Homo sapiens: one gene and its partners. The protein of the gene in region 1 interacts with the protein of each later gene in a biochemical or structural test. Each region holds a gene or a part of one and is shown on either strand. Other genes may lie near its edges.

The links. Proteins that work in one complex are often made in the same cells at the same time.
Region 2: the proteins of REL (region 1) and DPF2 form a complex in vitro, tested with the Homo sapiens proteins (one study listed by BioGRID).
Region 3: the proteins of REL (region 1) and SRF form a complex in vitro, tested with the Homo sapiens proteins (one study listed by BioGRID).

The regions. Positions count from the first base shown.
Region 1 is NC_000002.12:60,911,477-60,919,684, forward strand, and holds part of REL (proto-oncogene c-Rel), read left to right. Parts: intron 1-5,400; coding exon 5,401-5,541; intron 5,542-6,714; coding exon 6,715-6,819; intron 6,820-6,917; coding exon 6,918-7,130; intron 7,131-8,208. UniProt on the Homo sapiens protein: Proto-oncogene that may play a role in differentiation and lymphopoiesis.
Region 2 is NC_000011.10:65,336,852-65,344,455, forward strand, and holds part of DPF2 (zinc finger protein ubi-d4), read left to right. Parts: intron 1-3,533; coding exon 3,534-3,694; intron 3,695-4,114; coding exon 4,115-4,222; intron 4,223-4,547; coding exon 4,548-4,711; intron 4,712-6,893; coding exon 6,894-6,986; intron 6,987-7,139; coding exon 7,140-7,218; intron 7,219-7,604. UniProt on the Homo sapiens protein: Plays an active role in transcriptional regulation by binding modified histones H3 and H4. Is a negative regulator of myeloid differentiation of hematopoietic progenitor cells. Might also have a role in the development and maturation of lymphoid cells.
Region 3 is NC_000006.12:43,167,194-43,174,872, reverse strand, and holds the start of SRF (serum response factor), read right to left. Parts: upstream 3,605-7,679; 5' UTR 3,217-3,604; coding exon 2,704-3,216; intron 2,478-2,703; exon of another isoform or gene 2,409-2,477; coding exon of another isoform or gene 2,295-2,408; intron 1,027-2,294; coding exon 760-1,026; intron 1-759. UniProt on the Homo sapiens protein: SRF is a transcription factor that binds to the serum response element (SRE), a short sequence of dyad symmetry located 300 bp to the 5' of the site of transcription initiation of some genes (such as FOS).

The DNA.
Region 1 (8,208 bases):
ATGTAAAATTAATATATAAAGGTCAGTCATATTTCCATATCTCAGCAGCAAATAACTGGAAAACATCATTAAAACAAATATTGTCAGGAGATATGAAGTATGTAGAAACAAATCAAAGAAATGATAAGATTTCTTTAGGGAAAATTATAAAATTTTATTATGAGATCTTAGAGAATACTTAAATAAATGGAGAGGTATTCCGTGTTCTCTAATAGTAATATTGTAAAAATGTCATTTTCCCAGGCCGGGCGTGGTAGCTCACACCTGTAATCCCAGCACTTTGGGAGGCCGAGGCGGGCGGATCACAAGGTCAAGAGGTTGAGACCATCCTGGCCAAGATGATGAAACCCCATCTCTACTTAAAATACAAAATTAGCTGGGCGTGGTGGCACAGGCCTGTAGTCCCAGCTACTCGGGAGGCTGAGGCAGGAGAATCACTTGAACCCGGGAGGCGGAGGTTGCAGTGAGCTGAGATCGTGCCACTGCACTCCAGCCTGGGCAAAGAGCAAGACTGTCTCAAAAAAAAAAAAAAAAAAAAAAAAAGTCATTTTCCCCCAATTGATAAGTAGATTCAATGCAACTCCATATTAAATGTGATAATTCTAAACAGGAACAGAATATAGAAAAAGAACAATGAGGAGAAATTGACCTCATCAGATAGAAGTATTAATACTAATTAAGGCAGTGTCATATTGGGATAAGAATAGATAGATTGACTCATTGGAGTAGAATTGAGAGCCCAGAAGAGACTCCAATCACCTGTGACCCTGAACTGGAATAATTGGGTAAATCATTATCTTAACTTGTTTTTATTAATCTTTCTTAAATGTATGTATAGCTCAGATTTATTTCAATATTTAATATTGCAAGCGTTTTGGTCTTATAAATTTAGTGATGTTTTTGTGACCCATAGTCTGCCGTAGAAACTTAACTCTTATTAATATTGATTAGCCTATGGTAAAATTGGTTTTATTATGGTGTTGTTTCGCTTGAAGTTGCAATTTCCAAGAACCTATAGACATCATCCTAGAAGACATTAAGTGAAGACTTACTGTGTATATAAGCAGATTTGAAATTAAAAATATAAAAGATCTTCTGAAGTTGCAACAGTGCTCAGAAGTATTATAAAATAGAAATAAATCATTTCCAAAAGAGAGATTTCATTTTTGCCCAAAATCTTTCTTCTAAGCTATAAAAGACAAAACTGTTCAATACACAGTTTTGTCAATTTAAATCTACATATTCACCCAATTTTTATAAGATAAAATAAAAATGTATAATTATTGAAAAAAGAATTGAGAGCCCAGAAACAGAGCTAAGGAAATATGCGACTTTAGTGTATGACAGAGGTGGCATGTCATATCAAGAGGAAAGGAGGAAATGTTTGAGAAATGAAGCTTGAAAAAAAAATAGTTATTTAATTAAGTCGGATTCCCTACCTCACATCATATACAAATATCAGCTGAAGATGGATTAAAGGCTTTAAAAGTGAATCAACATTTTAAAAACTTTTGGTAGACTATGTTGGTAAACATTTTAATCCTTGAGGTATAAAAAGACAAGACACAAAGTGTTTTCTATAAAACTTTTGATAAATTTGATTATATTCTTAATTTCAATTTATTATATTTTTCAGTTCTAGAATTTGATTCCTTTTTTTCAGTTTCAAGTTCTCCAGTAAACTCTCAATCTTAATTCCTTGAATATATTAAGTATAGTTACTTTAAATTATATGTCTGAAAACTTCATTATTTGGATCCTTTGTGGTATGTTTTTATTGCCTGTTGCTTTCTTTTAAAAAAAAATTTTTTATTTTGCCTCCTCATATGTGTGGTTATTTAAGATAAAATACCAGTCATTTTCTGTGAAAAAGAGTAAAGATTTTAGGCCTACAATATTATCTCCCTGCAGAAAATTTTCTTCTGGCTAGTGGCCGGGTACACTAGCAATCCCAGGTCACCTAAAATCAGTGAATGATTTAGGTTATTTGAAGTTGGGCTTTCATCCCTGAAATCTGATATGTTTCCAGTTCACCCTTACTCCTAGGGTATAGCTCTTTCAGACCTCAAATCCCCCAAAGCCTTGGGTATTTATCAGATCCCACATCCTTGGCAAACTCTCAACTCCTTTATTTTTTCCCTATAGTTTATTGAGAGTTCATCTCAATCTTCTTAACCATCTCTTAGAAAATTGTCAGGCTATATTCAGATAAAAGTGGCCTCTCATTCTGAACTGTGGGTTTTCTTCTCTCATATCTTGGTCGCATGGTTTTTCATGACCTTGTTAGCTCTCTAATGTCATTAGAGAAATTTTGTTTCATATTTTGTCCACTTTATTCTCATGGTTGAATTGGTCCAGTTTACAGATTATCATCTATCATTACCAAAGTAGAACTTCTTTTTATTAACGTTTACTTTATGCTTTCTTCAGTAACTTGTAAAAGTATCTAAATGTTTGGTTGTTCAATAGGACTTTAAGTAATTCTTCAGTCATTTATGTTAATTGAGAAAATGTATAATAAATATCACTACTAGGTTCAACACCTAGTGGAGATACATCAGACATCCCTTCTGACTTCATTTGAAACTTTGTCTAATAGGATAGAAGAGGCATACATAAATGATTATCATGTAAGATTTTAAAACTTTTAAGGGCATAAGAAAGGTATAGGTCAAGTCTTGCACTGATTTAGAGAGGAGAAATATTCCCTCCATTGCAGAGGATGAAGTTAGGCTTTATAGAAAAGAAGCTTTGAGCTGGGGTTTCAGCCTTACACTGAATCTTGCATTGGGTAAAAACGGGTATCTGTCATGATTCTTGCCTGTCAGTAGTTTTTAACCATGTTGTGCAGAGATGAAAGTAATTCTGATGCAGTAGTAATTGTATTTCCACACATTGAGAAGATTCAAAGCAAAATCTCATAAACAGTGATTTTTTTTGAGAAGTAAGTAGAATTTCTTCCCTGTAGTAGAACTATTATGTGACTAAATGTTTTTGAACTTTGGCTTATTGACCAGTTTGTTTATTTTTCTTTTATGTGCCATTTAAAAATATTTAAAATAAACTTTTATTGAGATACAATAAAATCTACCCGAATATGTCCTGCTACATAACCACAATCAAGCTATGGAACATTTCCATCACCCCCTAAAATTTCCCTGGTCCCCTTCTCGCTCAGTTCCCTACCCTGCCTCTGCCTCAGGCAATTACTAATCTGCCTTCTGTCACTGGAGATTAATCTTTTCTAAAACTGCATGTAAATGGAAGCATACAGTATACTTTTGTATCTGGTTTCTTTTGCTCAACATGGTTTTGAGATACATTCATTTGGGAGTGTATACCCATAGCTTGTTTTTTTGTTTTTTTTTTTTTTTTGAGATGGAGTCTTGCTCTGTCGCCCAGGCTGGAGTGCAGTGGCACAATTTCGGCTCACTGCAAGCTCTGCCTCTCGGGTTCACCATTCTCCTGCCTCAGCCTCCCAAGTAGCTGGGATTATAGGCGCCCGCCACCACGCCTGGCTAATTTTTTGTATTTTTAGTAGAGGCGGGGTTTCACCGTGTTAGCCAGGATGGTCTCGATCTCCCAACCTCATGATCCACCCACCTCGGCCTCCCAAAGTGCTGGGATTACAGGTGTGAGCCACCACGCCTGGCCAGTTTGTTCTCTTTTATTGCTGAGTTTATTCCATTGTAGGTCTATACCACACTTTGTTTATCCATTCACAGAGTTCACATAGGTTTGTTTTTAAACTTACCAGGAACATCTAGCTACAAATTTATCTTTTTTGCATATTGATTACTCATCTTTGCAATTGAGAGACACTAATATCTTGAATGCTACATTTATAATGCTGTAAAAATGGATTTTGAAGAGGTAGCTCTCATATTGCCTACACAATAGTGCCAGTAGAGTATGCTGCTGTAACACAAGTGTTGGTATCATAACATTTTGACCTTTCAGTTGTACAGAGTACAGATGTGTTTTTATGCACTGTTTCAAAGATTAAGCATAAGAATGCTAATACTGGGATACTTATAAATGTTGTGATAGCTAAGTAGACTCTCAATGTCATTAAATAAAAACAGTACAAAATACATTATCAGTTTTATTAGTTATTGCCTGTAAAATAAGGAATTTGGGCTTAACTATGTTTCTAAATTTAGTGTTTCAAAATTTAATACTTTGCAAAGTAAAATTGTTATGTAAATAATGTGCATGTCTTGCTTTTTAAAAATATGACTTATTGCTATAGCTTATGGCATTTGAAAAGGCAATATTTTCTTTTGGAACTGGATTTCTGGTTCAAATACTAATTTAACAAACTATTATACTATATTCTATCATGAGCTTTTCTAGTTTTATAGAACTGTAAAATTTTTAATTAAAACATTTTTTAAGTTTGCACGTAAAATTTCTTATGGAAACTAGCTATCTTAACATTTTTTTGTTTCTTGGTATTTCATCCTTAAAATGTTGATCCACATTTAGTAGATACTCTTGTGTATGTCATTTTTATGTACAACACATGTACAATTTTCTAATAGATTTCAATTTTTAAAAGCATAGGCTCTAAATTTAATGACTTGAGTTCACATTTCCACCCTGTCACTGTGAAACTTTGGGCAAGTAATTCATCTCTTTACAGTCAGTTCCAGGCCAGGCTCAGTGGCTCACGCCCATAATCCCAACACTTTGGGAGGCCAAGGTGGGTGGATCACTTGAGCCTGGGAGTTTGAGACCACCCTGGGCAACATAGTGAAACCCCATCTCTACAAAAAAATAGAAAAATTAGCTGGGCGTGGTGGCATGTGCCTGTAGTCCCAGCTACTCAGGAGGCTGAGATGGGAAGATCACTTGAGCCTGGGAGGCGGAGGTTGAGGTGAACCAAAATCGCATCACTGCACTCCAGCCTGGGCAACAGAGTGAGACCCCCATGTCAAAAAAACGAACTAAACTCAGTTCCTCGTTTGTAAAATGGGGATGAAAGTAATTCTTGTACAGATTTAGGAGATAATTTACAGAGTCCTTAACACAACAACTGGACCAAATACATACTTGTTGAATGAATGGGTAAATGCCATTCTTTGTTGTGTACAAACCTGCAACTATTTTTTAAAACTTTGATTTGTTATTAATGTCAACTTGGGATTTTGCTTTAAATCCCAGGTGAGGGGATAGTTACTTCCTGAACATGGCTATAATTTATCAAATACTGTTAGATAGTGATTACTTGATAAGAATGATAAAAGGCATTCTTGAGATTGTATACTGTTCTATTTTTATTCATACATATTTGGATGCTATTCAAGGTTATTGGCTATAATGGGCAGGGAGGAGGACCTAGCAAGTCTTTAGGTCTATGTGACTATTACATTTAAAAAATTTTTTTTTTCTATTCAGTCCCTGAAAAACAGCTGAATGATATTGAAGATTGTGACCTCAATGTGGTGAGACTGTGTTTTCAAGTTTTTCTCCCTGATGAACATGGTAATTTGACGACTGCTCTTCCTCCTGTTGTCTCGAACCCAATTTATGACAACCGTAAGTACTTCATTTTCTTATATTTGTAGTCTTAACTTGTTTTTTGTAATAGTTTAATTCTTAAAATTATTTTGGTAATTAGGAAAACAATATATTCATGATAGGAAAACTTCCAGACATTAGAGAAATATATAACAGAAAGGAAATCTTCTCTAATCTCATCCTCCAGAGATAATCACTATCCTTAGGTGCATATTTTACCAGTTTCTTCTTCCTGTATATACACAGATACATTGTCATCATCATCATTTTTGACACAGTACAATTTTGGCAACTTAAAATCATAAGTGATGATTGTTTTAAAAACTAACTTTCTTCTTACCATATATCTTGGACATTTTCCTTTTAATCACCTTATTCTTTTCAGTAGCAGCATATTTTATTATGTAGTTATATCATAATTTTATTAATTACCCTCTTACAAGGCATTTGGTTTGTTTCTTTTCTCATTTTTTCTTTTTGGCCTAGCAAACTGTACTGCAATACATATTCTTGTATATTTTTTTTTATTGGTTTTTTTTTTTTTTTTGGAGACAGGGTCTCACTCTGTCACCCAGGCTGGAGTGCAGTGGTGCAGTCATGGCTCACTGCATGGCAAATGCTGGCTCAAAGGATATGGATATATCTCATTTTGAAAGATTATGAAACTTTCCCCCAAAATACTGTGTGTGTGTGTGTGTGTGTGTGTGTGTGTGTGTACGTGTGTGTGTGTGTACATAGACTTAGATATACGTCCACCAATGGTGTATGATATACCTGTTTTATGTGTAGAAGGATAGAGAGACTTAGGGCTATAAAGGAAGCATGAAAGTTGTATTGCCATAGGGAGATGTATTGCCATAGGGAAAATTGTATTGCCATGGGGATGTGGTCATGATTTATGAAGATTAATCTGGTGACAGTGGGTAGGATTGATTGGCGGAATCAGAATTTAGAAGCAGGGAGATGTAATTAGAGAATATGTCATTACCTAGAAATGAAGCCACAAAGTCTAAAGTAAAGCAGTTAGAAAGGAAGTGGACAGATAAATAGATGATTAATGTATTTAGTGTCATTTATCTATACACTAAAACTTTTATTCTGTGAATGCTTTTCCTCAAATTCTTCCCTGCAAAAAGAAATAAAATATTACTAAGGTAGCAACTCATTTTTTTGAAAATCCTTTATATTTAGGTGCTCCAAATACTGCAGAATTAAGGATTTGTCGTGTAAACAAGAATTGTGGAAGTGTCAGAGGAGGAGATGAAATATTTCTACTTTGTGACAAAGTTCAGAAAGGTATTTATTTATTTCATTGAATTTAGAATAAATTTTAGATTAATAGATGCAGTTACTTTGTTTTCCCATTTTTTTTTTTTTGGTTTCTTATTGACTAGATGACATAGAAGTTCGTTTTGTGTTGAACGATTGGGAAGCAAAAGGCATCTTTTCACAAGCTGATGTACACCGTCAAGTAGCCATTGTTTTCAAAACTCCACCATATTGCAAAGCTATCACAGAACCCGTAACAGTAAAAATGCAGTTGCGGAGACCTTCTGACCAGGAAGTTAGTGAATCTATGGATTTTAGATATCTGCCAGATGAAAAAGGTATGACATTTTGCTGGTAATAATTTATATATTTCTTGAAGTGGTCCTGCTAATAACATCTTCTTGTAATATTCATTTGAGTACAGTTATGTATATTCATAATTTATGTTTCTTTTCCTGGAAGCTTTCTGTTGGTTTTTTCTTTATGCTCTTTGCATCTCTTTATTTGTTGGGTTGTTTTTTGTTTTGTTTTGTTTTGTTTTTGAGACAGAGTCTCACTGTCACCCAGGCTAGAGTGCAGTGGCGCAATCTTAGCTCACTGTAACCTCCTCCTCCCGGGTTCAAGCGATTCTTCTGCCTCAGCCTCCTGAGTAGCTGGGACTATAGGCACGTGCCACCACGCTGGGCTACTACTTTTGTATTTTTAGTAGAGACAGGGTTTCACCATGTTGGCTAGGCTGGTCTCTGCATCTCTTTCTTCAAGAAGAGGTTTGATTAGTATGGAATAATTTCAAAGTATCTAAACTGCTTACTAAAATTTCTATTTTATTTTTGAAGGTCTGTTTTAGTCTTTGTGCACTTACCACTCAGAGAGTAGTCTCTATATTGGTTTCTTATCAAACCTTATTGCATTAGTTGACATTATTGACTTGTGTGATAAGAAAACAAGATGAATATTTTAAACAGCTTGTTTTGGGTTTTTTTTGAGACAGGGTCTCACTCTGTCACTCAAGCTGGAGTACAGTGGCATGATCGTGGCTCACCAGAGCCTCAGCCTCCTGGGCTCAGGTGATCATCCCACCTCAGCCTCGTGAGTACCTGGGACTATAGGTGCGCACCACCACACTTGGCTAATTTTTGTGGGGTTTTTTTGTTTTTTTGTTTTTTTGTTTTTGAGATGGAGTCTTGCTCTGTCTTGCCCAGGCTGGAGTACAGTGGCGCAATCCTGGCTCACTGCAGCTTCTGCCTCCTGGGTTCAAGCAATTCTCCTGTCTCAGCCTCCCAGGTAGCTGGGACTACAGGCATGCGCCACCACACCCGACTCATTTTGTATTTTTAGTAGAGATGGGGTTTCACCATGTTGGCCAGGCTGGTCTCAAACTCCTGACCTCAGGTGATTCACCCACCTCAGCCTCCC
Region 2 (7,604 bases), on another chromosome or scaffold:
AGGCTGAGGCGGGCGGATCACAAGGTCAGGAGTTTGAGACCAGCCTGGCCAAGGTGGTGAAACCCGTCTCTAGTAAAAATACAAAAATTAGCTGGGCATGGTGGCGTGCACCTGTAGTCCCAGCTACTCAGGAGGCTGAGGCAGAAGAATCGCTTGAACCCAGGAGAGATCACACCACTGCACTCCAGCCCAGGCGACAGAGCGAGACTCCGTCTCAAAAAAAGAGAGAAAGTCTTTAAGCGTTCTTACTAGGAAAGTAAAATAATAGTATAGCTGTAGCTGCTGATTGGTTTTGAAACTTTCTAGGCAAAATCTAGAGGCAGGGCGCGGTGGCTTACACCTGTAATCCCAGAACTTTGGAAGGCCGAGGTGGGCGGATCATGAGGTCAGGAGTTCGAGACCAGCTTGGCCAACATGGTGAAACCCTGTCTCTACTAAGAATACAAAAATTAGCTGGGCGTGGTGGCGCATGCCACTCGGGAGCCTGAGGCAAGAGAATCGTTGGAACCCGGGAGGCAGAAGCTGCAGTAGGCAGAAGCTGCAGTGAGCCGAGATTGCACCACTGCATTCTAACCTGGGCGGCAAAGCAAGACTCTATCTCAAAAAAAAAAAAAAAAAAAAAAATATATATATATATATATATATATATATATAGAGAGAGAGAGAGAGAGAGAGAGAGAGAGAGAGAGAGAGAGAACAATGTTAATGTTAACTTGACATTTCTTGGTATCGGAGCCTTAAGTTTTTGTTATTGCTTTTTTTTGTTTTAAGAGACAGAGCCTCCCTCTGTCCCCCAGGCTGAAGTGCAGTGGTATAACCTTGGTTTACTGCACCCTCAACTTCCTAGGCTCAAATGATTCCCCTACCTCATCCGCCCCAGGGGCTACGTGGAACCACAGGCATGCATCACTAAGCCTAGCTGATGGTTTTTTTGTTTGTTTGTTTTGTTTTTTTTAATTTTATTTTTTTTGAGACAGAGTTTCGCTCTTGTTGCCCAGGCTGGAGTGCAATGGCGCAATCTCGGCTCACCGCAACCTCCGCCTCCCAGGTTCAAGCAATTCTTCTGCCTCAGCCTCCCCCGTAGCTGGGATTATGGTCATGTACCACCACGCCCGGCTAATTTTGTATTTTTAGTAGAGACAGGGTTTCTCCATGTTGAGGCTGGTCTCGAACTCCTGACCTCAGGTGATCCGTCCACCTCAGTCTCCCAAAGTGCTGGGATTACAGGCGTGAGCCACTGCGCCAGGCCTTTTTTATTTTTATTTTTTAACGTTTTGTAGAGATGGGATCTCACTATGTTGCCCAAGCTGGTCTCTAACTCTTGGTCTCAAGAGATCCACCAGCCTTGGCCTCCCAAAGTGCTGGGATTATAAGCATGAGCTACTGTGCCCGGCCTCCCTTAAGTTCTTAAGAGCTCACTGTCATGCTGTCTTGTTCTCTCTTCATGAGATTCTCCCCCCACACTTCAGTGTTTCCTTCCCAGCCCTTTTACCCCCAAGACTGTTTGCCTGCCTTATGTAGCTCACAAGAGCCCTGACAGAACATCTCTCATTCATTCCCCGCAAAACTGTTTCCAGCCTCCTTGCTCTGACTTTGCAGCACTCGCCAGCCTGGCCCTGCCTTCCATTTGACTTCCAGTGTCCGTATCAATTCCCATCAGCAGAAACAAAGGAGCTGCCGCACTCAACCTTGTTTATCCAATTTTATTCTGTGTGGTGAAGACGTGGCTGCCTCCTAAAGGCGAGCCCACAGAGGCAAGGCTGCCTTCTCCATTCTGCTCTCCAACGTGAGATTCGTGCCTACCTCAGATTACAGTCATTACAGCTCATTGAATCACGCCAGGCTATATTTGTGGCATTGCCGTCTCTGTGTGTCGTATGTGTCTTTTTTACTTGCTGGGCACATGCTAAGTTATGCAGTGGTCTATTGTGGCTGCTCACTGAAGGACCCTGTCACATTCTAGAGCAGGGTTTGTTGGTGTAGCCCGAGTTACGGACAGAAACCACAGAGACTTAATCTGTTTGCTGTCTCATCCCCAGGCTGTTTCTTGTAAAATCCTGATATGTCAAAGCTCATTTGGTCCAACCTCCTCAATCTATAGAAGAGTAACCAAGGTCCACCTGGGCTGACTAAGTGTCCATGTTCGTGTGACTTGCAGGCAAGCCAGGTCTTTTTACTCTCAAGTCAAGTCTGACTGTATCTCAGACATCGTCATGAGTATTAGGGATACTATGAGAAATAAATCAATTCTGCCCTTGGTTTAAGATTGATTGACGCCAGGTACTGTGACACATGCCTCTATTCCCAGATACTTGGGAGGCTAAGGCAGGAGGATCACTTGAGCCAGGAGTTTGTGTCCAGCTTGGGCAACATAGTGAGACCTTGTCTCTTAAAAAAAAAAAAAAACAAGATTGATTGAATATAAGATCGAGTTTGTTAACCTCCATTACCAAAGTCCTTGTTAAACCCTGCAAGATGAGAACAAGATAGGTTCTATATACACGCTTCTTAGAACCAGATAACTCCTGGCACTGTGCAGTTTTCCAGTTTTCCACTTAAAGATTTACCCTTGATTCAGATTTCAAATTGAGTCTTTTGAGACCAAGAAGATTTTTTCCTATATAATTTTATTTTGTGAGAATGGAGAAGAACCCTAAGATGGGCCTTAGAGCAAACAAGTTTCTTATGAGTGATGGTGCTCAATAAAAGCTTCAAGGAACTTCAGGTACTTGTAGACATCTTCCATAAATGTAAAATTAATTAGTTGATTAAAAACCTAGTTCAAAATTCAAAAGATATAAAAAGGCATATGGAAGGAAGTGGCCTAGTCACCCACTTTTTCTCCCCGCTGACCTGCAGTTTCTTTTCCATTTTGTTACATAAATGATAGTTTTATTTGACGCTTCTCAGCAGTGTACCTTGCTTTGCTTTTTGTCCCTAGTTAACTTGAAATTGTTTAATATCAGTATGTGAAGAGCTTCCTTCTTATGGCTAAGTAGAATTTCATTGTATGGATTTACCATAGTTTGCTAAATACATTTTAATAAGTCCCCTAGACTTTGAACTCTTTCCCTCTGGAGCAGACCTTGGGGCAAGGATGTGGGAGCATGTAGTTTATTTGGGAGGTGATTCTAGGAAAGAGGGAATAAGGAGGAACTTAGGAGGGACTATCATCTGCTTCTTAGCCTCATAAGGGTTAAGAGAAATAGCATCTTAACTAGCACAGGGGTGGGCTTGTGAGACACGTGGAGTGAACATTCTTTCACCTCTTTGGGGGTTAAACTTAAGTCTGATTAGACATATGATGAAATCATGTGTTCCTGATGGTAATTTATTTGTAAAGTAATTCCTCATGATGGCCTAGAAAAGGGGCTTCGTGTCCCATGAGGCAGAAGTGGAGGCAAATAGAACGGAAGAGACAGCCACCCAGTCCCTTGAGCCTTCTAGAGAAGCAGATGGCAGGGGAGAGGAATAGCTCAGCACCCTATGCCCCCCGCTCCAACATACACGCCTGATTTCTATCTTCCCTGCAGCCTTGGGGAGCAGTACTACAAAGATGCCATGGAGCAGTGCCACAATTACAATGCTCGCCTCTGTGCTGAGCGCAGCGTGCGCCTGCCTTTCTTGGACTCACAGACCGGAGTAGCCCAGAGCAATTGTTACATCTGGATGGAAAAGCGACACCGGGGTCCAGGTGAGGGTCCAGACTTGGGAGAAGGGGACTCAGGAGCATAAGGAGGAAGAAGCCTCCTCATCTTAGGTGATGAGACAGTTGATAGGGTTTTCCCTACTGCCTTCCACCTATGGATGAATATGGTCTTCCTGTGATTAGAAACCCAGGGAGGATGAAGCAGATGTTTGATACCAGCATCTTTGTTTTCTGCCCTGCTGAGGCCATTGTGTGTCTGGAGAACTATGTGTTAGCCAAGGCCCTGAAGCTTATATATCTATTTTTCTTTTCCACAGACTATTCCACCTAACCCCCTAGGCCCTCACTGTCAGAATTTCTCCCTTGCTCTAGAACTCAAAGGGGGGCCTACTTAATTAGAAAGTGTTTGGTATTACTTTCTAATACTGGGTTAGGGCCTGACTTCTATCTTTCTTCCTGCCACAGGATTGGCCTCCGGACAGCTGTACTCCTACCCTGCCCGGCGCTGGCGGAAAAAGCGGCGAGCCCATCCCCCTGAGGATCCACGACTTTCCTTCCCATCTATTAAGCCAGGTAAGGCACATACTTCCTGAGCAGAGGCGTGGCCTGCTGCATGGTGAGAGCCTGCTAATCACTGTGATATACCAGGCCCAGTACTAGATCCCAAATATACTCAAATGAATATGATGTGATTCTTTCCTTTAAGGACCTCAGTCTAGAAGGGGAGACAGGTAAACAGATAAGTTATGGTGCCAAGTGAACTAGGGTGTCTTAATTCCTGGGCGTGCAGAGAACAAAAGATAGTGACAGACCTTTGGTAAGCCCCAGCATTATGTGGACTCAGAGCAGTCTGCTTTCAGCCCTTTTGAGCCTTGCTTTATCCTGACCTTGCTTGCAGACACAGACCAGACCCTGAAGAAGGAGGGGCTGATCTCTCAGGATGGCAGTAGTTTAGAGGCTCTGTTGCGCACTGACCCCCTGGAGAAGCGAGGTGCCCCGGATCCCCGAGTTGATGATGACAGCCTGGGCGAGTTTCCTGTGACCAACAGTCGAGCGCGAAAGGTACAGGATTATCCCTGTGGCTAAGGGAGCTTTGATGGAAATCAGCCTCCTCTTCACTGGGGGCCACCTAGTTTCTAGAACTGAAACAGAAGCTGGAGTCCAGGAAGCAGGCCCCTGCAGTTCTGTTCTTACTTCAGTCCCTGATTATTGTCAGGTACTGACTGGCTTCTCTGTTGCTTCTAACTATAGACTCTCATTCATTCACTTTTATCACAGAAGGTTATTATTATACACATATATAATTTTCATTAAAAAAATTAAAATAGGCCAGATGCAGTGGCTCATGCCTGTAATCCCAGCACTTTGGGAGGCCAAGGCAGGAGGATTGCTCAAGTCCAGGAGTTCGAGACCAGCCTGGGCAACAAAGTGAGACCCCATCTCTACAAAAAAATAATAATTAAAAAAAAATAGCCAGGCATAGCAGCATGCGCCTGTTGTCCCAGCTACTAGGGAAGCTGAGGTGGGAGAATCACTTGAGCCTATGAGTTCGAGACTGCAATGAGTCATGATCATGCCACTGCACTCCAGCCTGGGCAACAAAAAAAAAAAATTAAAACCAGAAGGTGCAAGAATAGTACAATGAAATACCACATACTCTTTACCTAGATTTATCAATTCCACATTTTGCCACATTTGCCTTATCTGTCTTTGCTAAACTATTTGAGAGGAAACTTCAAAAACTTTTCAGTCTAGGCAACATAGCAGGACCTTGTCTCTACTAAAAATAAAAATAAAAAATTAGCTGGGCATGGTGGCACACGCCTGCAGTCCCAGCTACTCAGGAGGCTGAGGTGGGAGGATTGCTTGAGCCCAGGAGATTGAAGCTGTAGCTCTGCTTATGCCTCTGCACTCCAGCCTGGGTAACAGAGGGAGACCCTGTCTGGGAAGGGAGGGAAACAAACTTTTATCCCTAAGTGCTTTACTCTTTTATCACAAAAGTTTGTGTCACAGTTTTTTGGTCCCTGAGGTTACACAGTGAAGCACACTTAGTCTCTGCCAACAGAGAAGATAAGAATACATGTAAAAATAACAGCTATAAATATGCCAGCATTGGGTTAAGTGCCTTTTCATGCCCTTTCTCCTTTAGTCTGTACAACCTTATGGGGTAGGTCCTGTGTTCCCCATTTCACACAGAGGCTGAAACAAAGCAGTTTAAAAACTTCCCATGGGTCGGGCACGGTAGCTCACGCCTGTAATCCCAGCACTTTGGGAGGCCGAGGCAGGCGGATCTTGAGGTCAGGAGATCGAGACCATCCTGGCTAACATGGTGAAACCCCGTCTCTACTAAAAATACAAAAAAAATTAGCCAGGCGTGGTGGTGGGCACCTGCAGTCCCAGCTACTCAGGCGCAAACCCGGGAGGCAGAGCTTGCAGTGAGCCGAGATTGCGCCACTGCACTCCAGCCTAGGTGACAGAACGAGACTCCATCTCAAAAAAAAAAAAAAAACTTCCCATGGCCGGCCACGGTGGCTGACGCCTGTAATCCCAGCACTTTGGGAGGCCGAGGCAGTTGGATCACCTGAGGTCGGGAGTTCGAGACCAGCCTGACCAAGATGAAGAAACCCCGTCTCTACTAAAAATCCAAAATTAATCAGGTGTGGTGGCGCATGCCTGTAATTCCACCTACTTGGGAGGCTGAGGCAGGAGGATCGCTTGAACCCAGGAGACGGAGGTTGCGGTAAGCCAGTATTGCGCCATTGCACTCCAGCCTGGGCAACAAGAGCGAAACTCTGTCTCAAAAAAAAAAAAAAAAAAAAAAAGCTTCCCACAAGGTCACACAAATAAGCAACAACATTTTAATTTAAACTAGGAGGCGAGTGTCAGGACAGAACCACCAATAATGTGCTCCCAGGGTGGCCAATCAGAGGCAGGAGAGGGCATGGCTGCTTGTGGCATCAGGGCAACCTTTTGGAAGCATGCTATTTGATTTGGCCATGTGGCATGGTGGGGAAAGCATTTCAGGCTAAGGAAATAACGTGAAGCACAGGGGAAAGATATCCCAAAGTATGGAAGGGAGCAGGAGCAGGATTATAGCATGCTTGAAAGGCGTTGGTGAGGAATGAGGCTGGTGTGGGTGGGACCACGTCACAGAGGAGGTTCTGGGTGGCCTTGGCCAGTCTCATCATAGGGGAGCTTTTGGATGCACATATTTCTACCCATGCTAACCCTCCTGTCCACTCAGCGGATCCTAGAACCAGATGACTTCCTGGATGACCTCGATGATGAAGACTATGAAGAAGATACTCCCAAGCGTCGGGGAAAGGGGAAATCCAAGGTGAGGGGCCAGCGTGCTGCCTGCATCTTGGGACAGGGTGGCCTAGGGAATTCCTTATTTTATTTCAAGTGAGATTAGCGGCCACTTCCAAAAGAGTCTAACTCCTCAGGCCCAGCTACCAAAATAAGGGTGTCTCTTTGCTCTTCTTGGCAGGGTAAGGGTGTGGGCAGTGCCCGTAAGAAGCTGGATGCTTCCATCCTGGAGGACCGGGATAAGCCCTATGCCTGTGACAGTGAGTGCCTCACAAGTGGGTGGGTAGACCTTGCCTTGGACCCAGCTCCTGCTCTGGATATGAGAGGAGGGAGGGTTGTGTTTTTGCCCAGAGTATTAAAACAAACCTGGGCTCTTGTCCTGCCTGCTGACTGCTTCCGTCTGAGACCCCTGGGAGGCCTGGGTCCCTGCTATATGACGGGTGGGACCTGCATGCTCTGGGAAAGATTTCTGCCATCCTCTGGGGTAGGGTTGCTTGTGGGGGCCACAGCAGGCAGGGTTGGCCTCTCAACAGATGGCCTGCAGGTCTCCTGGCCTCAGTTAAGCCAGGGCCCCAGGGGTCTGACACTGAGTTTTTCAACGTCTGTTCTCTTTTTCTTTCTGTCTGCCTTGCCCCACTTCTGTCCC
Region 3 (7,679 bases), on another chromosome or scaffold:
CCACCAAGCCCAGACCCGAAATGAGTCAACCAGAGGCTCAAAGGCTGCGGGGTGGGTCAGCACGAGACGTTTGCAAAGCAGCTGGGCCCAAGACCCTTGATTGGCAGAGGCGTTGCTAAGGCAAACAGTGCCGCTTCCTCCCATTGGCCAGTCAGTTAAGTGCCACCCGGAAGGTGGAGCTCCCCAGACAGCAAGGGAGGAAGCCCCACCCCCTCTCCTTACCGGGAAAAGGAAGGGGGAGGAGTAACAGCGCAGGCATCCCTAGCAGCAGGCAAATGCGCTCCCTAACTGCCCAGGCCCCCAACACCCTGAAAGGGCAGCGGCTGGCTTGTAAGGTAGTCCCCGGCCCAGTCAACCAGCCCGCCTGCCAAGAGTGCTGGATTCCCAGGACCCCGGGACCGGAGTGCTCCCTTTCTACTCCCTGGCGACCCAGCCCGGAGGGCCGGGCTAAACTACACCCCCGCCCCTAGCGGGGAGACAGCTGGCGGGAGGAATGCAAAGGCCCTGCCAGGCAGGCGGGCTGCGGGCGGGAGGCCGGCGTGGAGCCCAAGCCGGCCTTATATGGGCACGGAGGCCGCCCGCTTATCTAGGGGGGCGGTCTTCTATCAGGAAAGTGAGGATGGACACCTGTCCCCTAGGACGAGGGTCGTTAATCCGGCTCCACTCCACATCGGTGGGCACCTATCCACCTGTCCTGGGCCAGAAAGGGAGAGGGACCCCACTCCCTTCCCTCCTCTCACATAGGCAACCCAAACACACCTTGGTCTCCCCACTGCTGTCAGACTCCGACACCTGGTAGGTGAGATCTGTCTCTTCAAAGCCAGTGGCACTCATTCTCTGGTCTGTTGTGGGGTCTGAACGGGGTGGAGAGTCTGGCGAGTTGAGGCAGGTCTGAATCAGTGCCTTGCCGGTCTCACTGGTGATCATGGGCTGCAGTTTTCGGGTGGCAAAGGTATACACATGGCCTGTCTCACTGGCCACCAGCAACAGCACCTGTGTCCCTGTCAGCGTGGACAGCTCATAGGCCTGAGGGGTGAGGAGGGAGATGGGCAGGTCAGCAAACTTTTTATCTCTACCTTCCTTGAGAAGTTGGAAAAAGAATTATACAGTGATGTCATTCCCCCATTCCCATAATGACCTTCGTCTCTAATGACTCTGAGGGCAGGGTGTCCTATCAGGATCTCTGGAAGCAGCAAAACTACCCATGCTCCTCCTTTGAGGAGCAGCCCCATTGACCTGAAGATACCCCAAGCAAACAGTAACAGCCCCCAGTGATGGAACATATAACTTCAGGGGATACGAAGGACCCAGCTAGCTGCTCCCCAACACAGCTTAGTGCCTGGAATGTCCCAGAGCCTCACCCCTTCTCACTGTCACAGGGACCAGGATGGATCCCTACCTATCACACTGGAATTTGTACAAGACATTAGTGATAATGGACCATTTAAGCTCCAACTGTCCCATGTTTCTTTCCAGAAACTGCACAGGCTCCAACTTGTTGCCACAGCCTAGTTTCTCCTTTTGCCCTGTAATACTTTACTGCCCTTACTCCTTTGTCTTGGGAAGAAGGTTATGGAAGGAGAGAAGAGAGTTTTCCTTAATTACCTCCCCCCACAATCTTCTCCACTGATGATCAAGTGACAAGGGACACTGATACAACAGTGTCTGGAGTGATGGGAGACGAGACCTAGATTAGCACTAAACATCCTGCCATGAGCCCAGGAAGGGGACCTTCAAGGATGGCCCCATAGATGCCATACTCTCCCAACAAAGTTCTGCAAACCACCTTGGAAGCAGCTCTGGTTTCTACATGGGACAGAAATAAACACCAGCCAGTGTTCCCAAGGATCCAGCTCCTTGTCTCCCAGTTCCTCTGCTTTCATCTCTTCCCTTATCGTCTACACCCCAAAATGACTCCTTTCCTCAACACTTTTCACTGGCTGGCAGAAGAGGAATTCCTAGGTACCTCTGCAAGCCTCCCTGACTTCCCCCAAACCCCATCCAAGCATAGATTCTCCCTAGGGCTGGAAACCCCACTTGTCCTAACGGCAGGAGATTCTGCAGCGGGTCCTGCCAGGAGCATGTGGTTCCCAGTGGATGCCATGGAAGACTCACGGCCGGCGCAGGACTAGGTTCCTGCTGCTCAGGGCAGCACCAGTTCTCCTGCCCCGCTCCCTTACCTGGTCCCTAACCCTGCCTGTCCTTCCAACCAGCACTACTCTCGTGGTGCCCACTTCCTCCCACACATGTTCGCTCATTGTTGTCATGCAGCTCCAGCCTCCTCACCTCCATACCTTCTCGTTTGCTCCCTGCTTTTCCGGCGCCCTCGTCCGAACACCGGAGTGCACTGGACCTACTGATCCCGGGTTCTCATTATCCACCTCCCCGGCAGCCTCGTAGCCTCCCATCACCGCTCCTCACCCCTTCACTCAGCAAGGGCCCTCTTCCTCTCTGGCGCCGGTCACTCCCACCTCTGCGCCTTTCCCCACGGTTGCGAGCGTTCGCGGGATCTCCCCTCTCCCCACATTTCCCCGGCGGCCCCTCCCCTTCGGCCCTCCCCGGGCAGGAGCCATCCCCTCCCACACACCTCCTGCGGACTCGCAGCCTCTCACCTCCGCCTCGGCTCTGCGGTCCTCCCGGGCTCCCTTTGCACATCCCCACCCCAACCGGGCCCCGGGGCCGGCCAGCCCCCCGGCTTGGTACCTTCTTCATGATGCCCGTCTTCCTCTTGCTGAAGGTCGTGTAGCGCCGCAGCTTGTTGTCGATGAACTCCATCTTGATCTTCACGCGGCCCCGGGTCTTCTTACCCGGCTTGGCCCCGCTCACCGCGCCGCTCACCGGCCCGTAGCCCCCGGTGGCCGCTGCCGACGCCTCGGGCCCACCGACCACCATACCGATCTCCATCTCGCTCAGGCTCCGCTTCAGGCCGCGCCGCTCGGCGCCCAGCTCCTCCTCCTCGCCCGACTCCGAGTCGCCCTCGCTGCCGCTGTAGAGGGCCCCCGCGGTGGGCGCCGGGGTGGTTGCCGCCGCTGCCGCAGCCTCCCGCTCCAGGCGGCCGGGCCCGAGCCCCGCGCCATTCCCGGGGACCCGGCCCCCGTTAGCCCCGCGTGTCCCGCCGCCGCCGCCCGGCCGCCCCGTCGGGGTCCGGTTCAGGCTGCCCCCCAGGGCCGAGCCCCGGCCCAGAGCCGCCGCGGCCCCAGCTTGGGTCGGTAACATGGCGCTCGATGCAGGAGGGCGGACGGGCAGTCAGCGAGGAATCGGAGCCGCCGCAGCCGCCGCCATCGGCTTCCCGGCTCAACCCGGCACTCCCGCTGCTGCTAGTGCCGCTATCGCTGCCGCGGCCGCCGCTGCGAACCCGGGGCCCCTGCACGCCCGGGCCGACCTGGGCCCTCACTTTCCTGCCCCTGTGGCCCGGGTTGCCCCAGGCCGCGCGCAGCGCCCCCTGTCCGTCTGCTAGGGCGGCGCGCCGGGCGGCCGTCAGCGTCCCCCGGGGGGCAGGGGCTGCTGGCCGCGGCCGAGACGGCGGGTGGAGGGGGCCGGGACCACGCGCTGGCGGCGGAGGGATCCCCCGACCCTTCCCCCCATATAAAGAGATACAATGTTTCCTTTTATGGCGAGGCCGCTCCTTATATGGTGAGCCCCAGCGCCCCCGCCCCATTGGTCCGTGGTTCCGGCACCTCCGCTCCCCATTGGCCCACAAGAGGGCGCTTATTTGCATAGACATACCGAACTCGTTGCTGTCATCTCGCGTCAGACCGCGACTCTGAGAGGGGTGGAGCCGACGCCTCTTAAAGGAACCGGAGAGCAGGCACGATTCCGCCTCCCTGAACCCGAGAATGATAGAACGGTTTGGGAGGCACCCGCGGAGAAGGAGGCTGGGACTGGAGCGCAGTCTTGCGGAAGAGAGGGAGCAGCACTAGTAAATGGGCACCGGGACCGCTGGAGGCAAACACTGGGGAAACCCCTGGGTGGATTGTGGGGTTTGCAGTAAATAAAAAAATACAGCCCAAATTCCAAGGGAGGAGTGCAGGGATTGATTGGAGCATTTCCTCACGCCTTCCTAAGGGAGGCACAGTTATTGGCTGAGCGGAGAGAGCTTGGGTCCCCGCCCGGTGTCCAGACTCGTCGCGCCCCAGCCTCTCAGCTCTAACTTTTCCCCTACCCCCAACTTCCCTTCCCTTTCCCTCGCTTTTGTAGGCGACGAAACTTTCCCACCGGGCTGGCTCGAGGATCTTCATTCATCATCCTCTGCACTGGGGGGTCTTTGGCAGACATACATCTGGAAAAGGCTGGTGGAGGGGAGGGCGAGAGAGAGAGATCGGCCTCCCAGTCCTGAGGCGGGCAGGGAGGAGAGACGGAGATCAGGGAGGAGAGATGGAGATCAGTGAAGACTTCCAGCTGCAGGCTGGACTTGGGGAGGAGGACGTCCCGAGGATAAAGCCCACCCTACAGCCAGTGCAAAGACTTGGGAAAGTGTGGCCCGACAGAAAGTTTAAGCCCAAGCAAGCACGCTCGCGCACACACACGCACATACACACACTTCTCTGGAAAGCCCGTTGGAGAAAAAAAAAAAAGTTTCACACAGGGTATCGCTCTGTCGCCCAACCTGGAGTGCAGTGGCGGGATCTGAGCTCATTGCAACCTCTGCCTCCCGGGTTCAAGCGATTCTCCCACCTCCGCCTCTCACGTAGCTGGAACTACAGGTGCGCGCCACCACTCTGGCCTAATTTTTGTATTTTTTGTAGAGATGGGGTTTTGCCATGTTGCCCAGACTGGTTTCGAACTCCTGGCCTCAAGCGATCCTTCCCCCTCGGCTTCCCAAAGTGCTGGGATTATAGGCATGAACCACCGTGCCCAGCAGAAAAAAAAAAAAAAAAAAAAAAAAACTTAAAAGATTAGAACTGGGGTGCTGCAAAGTGAGGTTCAAGCTCTGGGTCTGGGTCTTTTCTCCAAAGCAGTGAAAATAGCTTGGACTTTGCTGTTACAGAATTATTTAAATCTGGAATCTGCCTCTTGGTAAGCCCTGTGCCTGGAAACAAGTGACAAGTGATCTGATCTCTCCAGACGCAATATTCATCAATGCTGCTATCCATTCCCTGAGTTTTTTTTTTTTTTTTTTTTGAGACAGAGTCTCGCTCTGTCGCCCAGGCTGGAGTGCACTGGCACGATCTCGACTCACTGCAACCTCTGCCTCCCCAGTTCAAGCGATTCTCCTGCTGCCTCAGCTTCCCAAATAGCTGGGATTACAGGTGCCCACCACCACACCTGGCTAGTTATTTTGTGTTTTTAGTAGAGATGGGGTTTCGCCATGTTGTCCAGGCTGGTCTCGAACTGCTGACCTCAAGTGATCCTCCCACCTCGGTCTCCCAAGGTGCTGGGATTACAGGCATGAGCCACCATGCCGGGCCTATTCCATGAAATTCTTAATGCAGATTTAATGACATAAAGACTAAAGGGCAGAGTAATTGGTCAGTGGTTAGGCAATAGGAGTTACCTGGAGTAAGTCACCTCATCCTAGGGATAAAGCATCTTGGCATGTTTAAGGGGATGGGAGGCAGTGATTATTCCTGCCCGAAAAATTATGGAGATTAAATAAAGCAGTTGATTGTAACCTAGTCATTACTGGTAGTGGTAGTGATATCAATTCAGTATACTACAATCAACATTTAAAAGAATAAATTAATGGGTATCACAAAAAGCAAGGGCAAATATTGTTGCATAAAATGTTTGTTTGCATTATATATAGGTTGAACCCTACAAAATTGCCATTTTATAGGTCAAGAAGGTGGGATATTGTCAATTTCTCATAATTCAGTGTATGTGTGTAATGGATGACAATATTAACTGCATTTCTTACTGTGAGTCACAATCCAAAAGCTTGAAAAATACTGAAATAAAATATGTGCAAGTGATCAGTAAAATATAGTGTGTATTTTGTGTGTATAGTGAATAAAATATAGTGTGTATTTTTTGTCATATAGAGATAAGGTCTCCCTATGTTGCCCAGGCTGGTCTCAAACTTCTGGGCTCAAGCGATTCTCTCACCTCGGCCTCCCAAAGTGCTGGGATTAAAGGCCTGAGCCACTGCACCCAGCCCCCAATAGTTTTAAAGAGGTCTCCCCTCCCTCCACTAATTTACTCTTTACAACAGGTACTTAAACATATGGAACGTGTTAGCCCAAGAGGAAGAACAGGTCAAACAGATAAATAGGTTCCAGAAGGGTTTTAGGGACCACAAATGATGCCTGGGGTCATGTTTTGTCTGAGCACCATAATATTACAGCCAAAGCTCTGGGATTTCATTCCCACCTGCCCTCTAAAGACCCTTTCATTTGCGCCCCCTAGTTTAGACACATGCAGGGGTGACATCCCTCAGCAGGGACAACTGCTCTCTGTCACATCTATAGGGGAGGGTGTCTGGGAAGAACGCAGTCCTTAGCTTCCCTTCAAATAGGCTGCCCTCTCTTCAACTTCTCCCAACTCCTGGGTCATTGCACACCAGTGTTAGTGTCACAGCTTCTCTGTCTGCTTGGGATGGCCCATCTTCATGTCCTTTGTCACCACAGGGAGTCAGGAGGAGACCTCTACCCACACTATTGGATTACTGCAGGTTCCAGAGCCAAAAGTATTGCTAGGGATAAAGTCAAAATCAAAAACTGTCTCATAGAGGTGTTTTATTTGGACCTTATAACATTTAAAAATCATAAGAGTTTACATAAAAATCTGAATGTCTGGCCGGGCGTGGTGGCTCATGTCTGTAATCCCAGCACTTTGGGAAGCTAAGGTGGATGGATCACTTGAGGTCAGGAGTTCAAGACCAGCCTGGCCAACATGGTGAAACGCCATCTCTACTAAAAAAATAAAAAAGTAGCCGGGCATAGTGGCACACATCTGTAATCCCAGCTACACGAGAGGCTGAGGCAGGAGAATCACTTGAACCTGGGAGGCAGAGGTTGCAGTGAGCCTAAATGGGGCCACTGTACTCCGGCCTGAGCTACGGAGTGAGACTCCTTTTCAAAAAAAAAAAAAAATCTGAATATCTGACCTCTCTCAAAAAAATCAGAATTTTTGGTAACACTGGGCCTAGGTACCCACAAAAGCATTATAACCTGGAGCTGATGGTGGCCATAGAAGAGGCTCTCCACTTTACCATAGACTCCACGCAGCCTACTGAGCCTAGGTAAGCTCCTGCCTGGCTGCTCTGAAATGTGAAGTTGAAATGTTCCTCCGAAAAGGCCTGATCAGAGTAGCACCTTGCAACAGATGGGAGCTCATGTCCACCCCAGACCATGAAGGGCCTCTGTAAGTGCATGGGAATTTCAGCCAGATCCCTCACACCACACAGATTCCACCCTGACCTTTCTTTCTTTCTTCTGATTTTTATCACCTAACTAATAACAAACAAAAATTAAGGATTGCTTTTAAAAATTACTGTCATGGCTGGGTGCAGTGATTCACACCTAAAATCCCAGCACTTTTTGAGGTCAAGGTGGGAGGATAATTTGAGTCCGGGAGTTTTGACACCAGCCTGGACAACACAATGAGACCCCATCTCTTAAAAAAAAAAAACACAGGCAGGCAAGGTGGGTCATGCCTGTAATCCTAGCACTTTGGGAGGCCTAGGAGGGTGGATCACCTGAGGTCAGGAGTTCAAGACCAGCCTGGCCAACATGGCAAAA